2 linked regions of the Homo sapiens genome follow. The protein of the gene in region 1 interacts with the protein of each later gene in a pairwise test. Each region holds a gene or a part of one and is shown on either strand. Other genes may lie near its edges.

What was found.
Region 2: the proteins of ERN1 (region 1) and SPATS1 interact in binary tests that used the Homo sapiens proteins (3 or more experiments, as listed by UniProt).

The regions. Positions count from the first base shown.
Region 1 is NC_000017.11:64,046,515-64,050,169, reverse strand, and holds part of ERN1 (serine/threonine-protein kinase/endoribonuclease IRE1 precursor), read left to right. Parts: intron 1-967; coding exon 968-1,115; intron 1,116-2,184; coding exon 2,185-2,312; intron 2,313-3,655. UniProt on the Homo sapiens protein: Serine/threonine-protein kinase and endoribonuclease that acts as a key sensor for the endoplasmic reticulum unfolded protein response (UPR).
Region 2 is NC_000006.12:44,363,127-44,366,781, reverse strand, and holds part of SPATS1 (spermatogenesis-associated serine-rich protein 1), read right to left. Parts: intron 1-3,655.

The DNA.
Region 1 (3,655 bases):
TTGGAGATTGGAAGACCTGAGTCCCATCCTGGTTTATCACATCCAGCAGTGACCCTGAGCTTGTCATGCAACCTTTCTGTCCACGTTCTCATCTGGGGATGAAAGCATTTGCTCTGCTCGCCTCACAAGGTTGTTGTGAGGCTGAATGAGAGTGCTGTGTTGTTCAAGGTGTGTCTCCTCCAGCATGGGAGGTGATGAGCCCCTGCTTCCTCACACTAGACCCTCACTTCACCTGGTGGAGAATCTCAGAGGCAGGGCCTACTAACAGGGACCCAAGCTGTGCTCAGGAACCACCTTGGTATTACACCCCAGGTAGCATGAGCTAAAAAACACAAACGTACATTTCCCTCGAAGGAAGCTATTCTGTAGACACAGAATGGTTTCATGGGATAAGTGAGAGGCTTTCTCGGATTAACATCAAACATGACCTCCTTGGTAACTTGTCAGATAGTTTCTTTCTAGGGCTGTTTTTGAATCATAAGCTGTTTTATTCACTTATTAGCAATTTTGATACCTACTGTGTGCAGGCACCATTCTGGGCCCTGGGGGTACAGCAGGGAAGCAACGACACAGAGACCCTGTCTGTGAGCACTTTCGTGTTGGGGGTAAGGAATATATAACAGCCAGGAGGGCTTTTGATGGGCCAAGCACTGTCGTAAGCAACCATTTTTGCATATTAATGCATCTCTTTTGACAACAGCCCCATGCTGTCAGTGTCCTCATCTCACATGAGAGGGAACCAGGGGCTTCCAGGTGGCTCCAAGCCCAGGTTCTCCACTGGGACCTCTGACACCCATGCAGTGCTGCAGGTTAGCCCTCGCTGCTCTGTGCAGCTCACATATGTCAGCTGATTCTCCCAGGACACCTTCTAGGTGGCAGAAGCAGCAGCAATGCTCCTCCCTCCCTGACTGTGAGTGAGGATGAAAACTCTGCTCCCAGACCTCTCACGCCTCATGTCTCTTTTCAGACCTACACGGTGGACATCTTTTCTGCAGGCTGCGTCTTTTACTACGTAATCTCTGAGGGCAGCCACCCTTTTGGCAAGTCCCTGCAGCGGCAGGCCAACATCCTCCTGGGTGCCTGCAGCCTTGACTGCTTGCACCCAGAGAAGCACGGTGAGCGGTCCAGGGGTTGGGGTTGGGAGCAGCTCCTCAGCTGCCTCAGGTGGCCCTGCAGAGCTGGGCTGGTGCCACCTTTGCACTCACAGAGGCCGTGGTGCCCCAGCTGCTCACCCCGCAGGCCTCAGGACCTCCAGACTTGTGCCAAATCTGGTAGAGGGTTGGTAGGGTTATCTCTGGGGCGCCACCTTCTAAAGCTGAGATGCTCCAAGGTTCCTCCAGGTCACCAACTACTTGTGTGACCTAGGCAAAGCCCCCTTTGGAGACCTTCTTTTTCTACCTGGTGACATGAGGGTTGAATAATCAGAGGTCCCTTCCTGCACTGGCATTTGGGAAGACAAATTGTCTTCTCTCTTGGGATGGCGAGTGGTCAGTAGGTGCAGTCTGTGCTGGGCTGGGGACAGACAAGCTTTATCCTCACCCTCCTGGTCTCCTGGTATGGGTGCAACAAGTCTTTCTTCCAGACTTCAGGTTTTCCTGGGTGGTAATTGGCCCATGACACTCCAGTGCTGCCTTTTGAAAAAATTACAACTAAATTATTGTTTTGTTTATGCTTAATTTTTCTTATTATAGAAAACACAGATTAGCATAAAGGCCCATATATTCCCATTATACAGGGATGAATGATGGCTATTGATACCTTTGCATATACGTTATTCCAGTCATTTATCTAGACGTGATTGCATATTTTATAAAAATACAGTTAAATCCTGCATACTGTTTTGCAGCATGCACGTTTTTCAGCGTCACCTTGAATCTCTCTCCACGTCAATCCATATTTAGTCACAGCCGCACTTTAACAGCTCATGGCCCAGCGTAGGGAGGCACCGTAGTGTATCCACTTGGGCCTCTGATACTGGATGTTTACAGTCACTTCCTTCACAAACCATGCAGTGAGGACTCACCTCTTTGGCTGAGGTTTTGTGTCTGTTCCTAATTATTTTATTGGAATAAATTCCTGTAAATAGAATCATAAATGAGAGGGTGTGCAGCTTTTTAAAGTTTTTGGTATTTCACTGTGGCTTTGGACTGGTAGTCATGAGTTGCTTATTTTCCTCCTTTATAGAAGACGTCATTGCACGTGAATTGATAGAGAAGATGATTGCGATGGATCCTCAGAAACGCCCCTCAGCGAAGCATGTGCTCAAACACCCGTTCTTCTGGAGCCTAGAGAAGCAGCTCCAGTTCTTCCAGGTAGAGACGTCTGTTCTCTTTATCCAGAGTCTTCATTTAATGTTTTTCAGATTTTGAAAATACAGAAAAGGACAAAGAATAAAATAAATTGCCCATTACCCTAAAACTGGAAGATAATCATGGCTGATGTTTTAATGTTTTCTTCATATATAAAAGTATAATTGGGATCTAACCGTATATACAGTTTCAGAATCCCTTTTTTTAACTGTACATGATATTTTAAGTTTCTTTCATGTTAAAGTTCTAAAATTCCAATGACCATAGTATTCTATCATATGGATGTGCCATAATGGTTAAGCTTTATATTATGGAATTTCCAAATATATAATACATAAATGTTTAAATGCTATAATGAGCACTCCTTTATTCATCCCTCAGGTTCAATAAATATTAACCTTCACCCTCTCCCCACCCCAGGTTATTTCGAAGTAAATCTCAGGCATCATATAATTTCATTCAAGTGTCATAAGCTTATTTATTTATTTTTATTTTTTTTGAGACAGCGTTTCACTCCGTTACCCAGGCTGGAGTACAGTGGTGCAATCTTGGCTCACTGCAACCTCTGCCTCCCGGGTTCAAGTGATTCTCCTGCCTCAGCTTCCTGAGTAGCTGGGATTACAGATATGCACCACCACGCCTGCCTAAGTTTTTTTGTATTTTTAGTAGAGATGGGGTTTCACCATGTTGGCCAGGCTGGTCTTGAACTCCGGACCTCAGGTGATCTGCCCGCCTCAGCCTCCCAAAGTGCTGGGATTACAGGCATGAGCCACCAGGCCCAGCCCAAGTGTCATAAATTTCAGTGCTTTCTTATATTGTATTTGTTTCTATCATCTTTTACACAGTCTTGGCCCAGATCTCCTTTTGCTTAAAATAGGTTCTGCAAAGTTAGAACTCCTTTGGTGATTTGACTGTTTTAAAGCTTTGTGACAATGTCAGGTGACTTTTGAAGAGGTAATGTGTTTTTCAAAGTCTTCCATGTATGAATTGAACATAACTCACCCGAACGCCTCCTGCCCAGCACGTGGCTCTGAAAGCAGGCTTGTGGGGCAGTGCTTTTCCCCTTGGGTCCAGGCAGAGTGCAGCTTGGTGGGCACCGTACTGAGAAGTGACCATCATGCTCTCCTGGGGTCTGACTGGGGCCTTGGCCAGAGGGAAGCCCCCAGAATGTAAGCTCCTCGAGGACAGGAGTGCTTGACTGCTGCATTCACTACTGTGTCCCTGCCTCCTAGGGAGGACGCTGCCTGGCCCAACCATTCAGATGGATCGGGTTGGGAAGAGTTTAATGCTGTCTTCCATGTTGTAGCATATGGATTGGTCACTGTGTCCATGGACATAATGTGAAA
Region 2 (3,655 bases), on another chromosome or scaffold:
TGAAATCAGAACTGGACTAATACCCCTCATCCCAATTATTTTTTAATCTGGAGGATACGATTGCTATATAGCTGAGGTATAAATTTCTCCCCAGGGAATCTTATCTAGATAGGGAGACATATGTAAAGACGAAGGTAACACTACAAAGCAGTAAATGCCATATACTATAGAACAGTGGTTCCAAAATTTTAGCACACCTGAAAATCACCTAGGAAACTTGTTTAAAATGCAGCCTTTAACCCAAGAAATTCTGTTTCAGAAGATCTCTAATAGTTCCCAGAACCAGTAATTTTTATAAACTTTCCAGTTGATTATGATATAGGTGGTCTAAGGAGAACACCTAGAAATAGACTATGGTGGCCAGGCGCAGTGGCTCATGCTTGTAATCCCAGCACTTTGGGAGGCCGAGGCAGGTGGATCACCTGACATCAGGAGTTCAAGACCAGCCTGATCAACATGGTGAAATCCCGTCTCCACTAAAAATACAAAATTAGCTGGGCATGGTGGCACATGCCTGTAATCCCAGCTACTCAGGAGGCTGAGGCAGGAGAATCGCTTGAACCTGGGAGGCAGAGATTGCAGTGAGCCGAGATCGCACCATTGCACTCCAGCCTGGGCAACAAGAGCGAAACTCTGTCTCAAAAAAAAAAAAAATATATATATATATATAGACTATGGTAAAAGATATCACAAGATAATGTCAGGAGGAAGAAAAAGAGGCAATGGTGTGATGTCAGTATAAGGTGTTACTTTTAGGGGGAAAATCTCCCAAACAACACTTCTGAGATAACATGTTTGTTTAAGCTATTAAGTACAATATGGGGCCTTGGTATAATTTCTGGATATCTCACCAAAACAGGTATCAGCCCAAAGGGCTGGCCACTATGTATCAATAGCTGATGGACCCATAACACTGCATGATCAGTTCTAATGCTTGTTTGTTTTTAGACAGACCATCCAATTTCCTGGATGTAGACATTCAGGAGGTAGAAAATGGGAAACATACATTTAGAGACAAATAACCATATAAGGGAGCGAACCGTTCACCAAATAACTTACTCTGCCCCACATTTCAGTGCCCCGATGCGTTTAGGTAGAGCCATGTTCTGACTGATAGATTGTGAGCAGAGATGATATGTGCCACTTTAAAAAGAAGCATTTAAGGAGCTGATGTGAAAAACCTTCCAGCATTTTCTCTTTACCCTTCTATGGCAATCTTAGAAGCCACAGGTTGAGATGGAAAGGTCACAGATAAAAGCAGACAGCATCCTTGGAAAGGAGCTGTCCTGGAGAGCTGCTGGATCCACAGTGGACTTTACAAGAGAAAGGAGCAAACTTTAGTGCTTAAGCTGCAGAGATTTCAGGGACTGTTACTGCGGCAGAATCTATCCTATTCTGACTAATACAATATGCTGTACTGTGGGAAGAGCTACACAATAGAAAATTGTATTTTCAGATCTATTTCCCTACCACCTACAATCATAGATGGCATTTTGTTCTGTGGCAACAGCTAGGCCTTTAGGGAACTCCACCAATATCCTGGTTATGGCTGATGGATAACAGTCAACCATTATTTAAAGATATTTTGATTGATTTTTTGATATAATAATGCGTTGCATTCCAGTTTAAAATGGCAGCTGGTTGGCAGTCCCTGAGCCTACCACTTCATCTCATCCAAGAAATAATGAGTGGGGGCCAGGAGTGGTGGCTCACACCTGTAATCCCAGCACTTTGGGAGGCCGAGGCGGGTGGATCATCTGAGGTCAGGAGTTGGAGACCAGCCTGGCCAACATGGTGAAACCCTGTCTCTACTAAAAGACAAGAATTAGCCGGCAGTGGTGGCACATGCCTGTAATCCCAGGAGGCTGAGACATGAGAATTGCTTGAACTCAGTGGGCGGAGGTTGCAGTGAGCCAAGGTCACGCTACTGCACTCCAGCCTGGGTGACAGAGCGAGACTCTGTCTAAAAAAAAAAGAAAGAAAGAAAGAAAGAGAAAAGAAAAGAAGAAAAAGAAAAAGAAAGAAAGAAAGACAGAAAGAAAAAAAGAAAGAAAGAAAAGAAAGAAAGAGTGGGGAGAGAATTTCACAAAGGAAGAAGTATCCAGTGTCAAGCTTGACAGTATCAAGTGCTGCAGTGAGATCAAGGAAGAGAAGAAATGGAAAAAGACCATTGCGTTTGATGTTTAAAGAAGTCACTGTACATCACCTAAGAAGTAATCATATACTAAAACGAATCAAGCCTGTAGACCCAACTACCACTTCACAGGAAATACACAGGAAAGAGGAACCTGTTAAATGATACCAAGCAATGTAATCAGCAAAGTCCTGATCATGGTGAATACTGCAGGATAAGGCCTAGTTTCTTCACCATACAAATTGCAAGAAAAAAGGAGGGAGAAAGAAACTTAACAGACATACCAACCAATTTCAATCTGTGGGCCTTACTTGGATCCTGATCCAAACAAACTAAATATTTTTAAATTGTGGCATTTATGAGACAATGGGATATTTGGACACTGACTATATTAAGGAATTACTGTTAATTTTTAAAATATGATATTATGATATGGAATTGTGGTTATGTTAATAAAATAATCCTTATCTATCAGAGGCACATATGATATATTTAGAGATGAAATAATATGATGTCTGAAATTTGCTTTGAAATAATCCCTGGGAGGAGGAGTAATGATGAAACAAGTTAGCCAGGTGTTGATCATTATTGAAGCTAAGTGGATGAGTACATCGGGTTTCATTTTGCTATTGTTTGAAAATTTACCTAATAAGTTTTTCTTTAAAAAAATATGAAATATGGGTTACCACTGGAGTTGGAGGAGGAAAGATGGAATATTCGGGGAAGAGGATATTGGAGCCTTCAAATATAAAGTTAGAATTTTATTTCTTAAGTGGAGTAAAAGAACGCAAGTATTTGTGATATTTCATTTTATATAGTCAACAAATGTTTCATAAATATATCATTGCATTTACTCAGTATTTATAAAACCCTAAAGGAAGAAGGGAAAGAAGAAATGAAAGGATGGAGAGAGGGAGGGAGGAAAGGAAAAAGGAAGGAAGGAGGGAAGGAAGGAAGGAGGGAAGGAGGGAAGGAAGGAAGGAGGGAAGGAGGGAAGGAAGGAAGGAAAGAAAGAAAAAGAAGAGGAAAGGAGAAGAAAGAAAAAGAAAGGAAAGGAGAGGGAAGAATCATAAACATAAAATTCAGGATAAGGTGGTTTACTTTTGAGCCAGGAGGGCAGTGATAAGTCAAGATTGAGATTTAGGTCATTATGATAATCCCATTTACTTTTGATAGGTACTTGCAGCTCAAGAGTGCAGGGTAGGCTGGCTGCAGTGGCTCACACCTGTAATACCAGCACTTTGAGAGGCCAAGGCCGGCTAATCGCTTGGGCCCAGGAGTTTGAGACTGGCCTGGGCAACATGGAGAAACCCTGTCTCTACTAAAAATAGAAAAATCAGCCGGGCATGGTGGCACATGCCTCTAGTCCCAGCAACTTAGAGGCTGAGGTTAGAGGATTGCTTGAGCCTGGGGCTGGGGGGCTGGCATTCGGAACTGCAGTGAGCCAAGATGGTGGCACTGCACTCCAGCCTGGGCCACAGAGCAAGACCTTGTCTTAAAAAAAAAAAAAGTGCTGGGCAC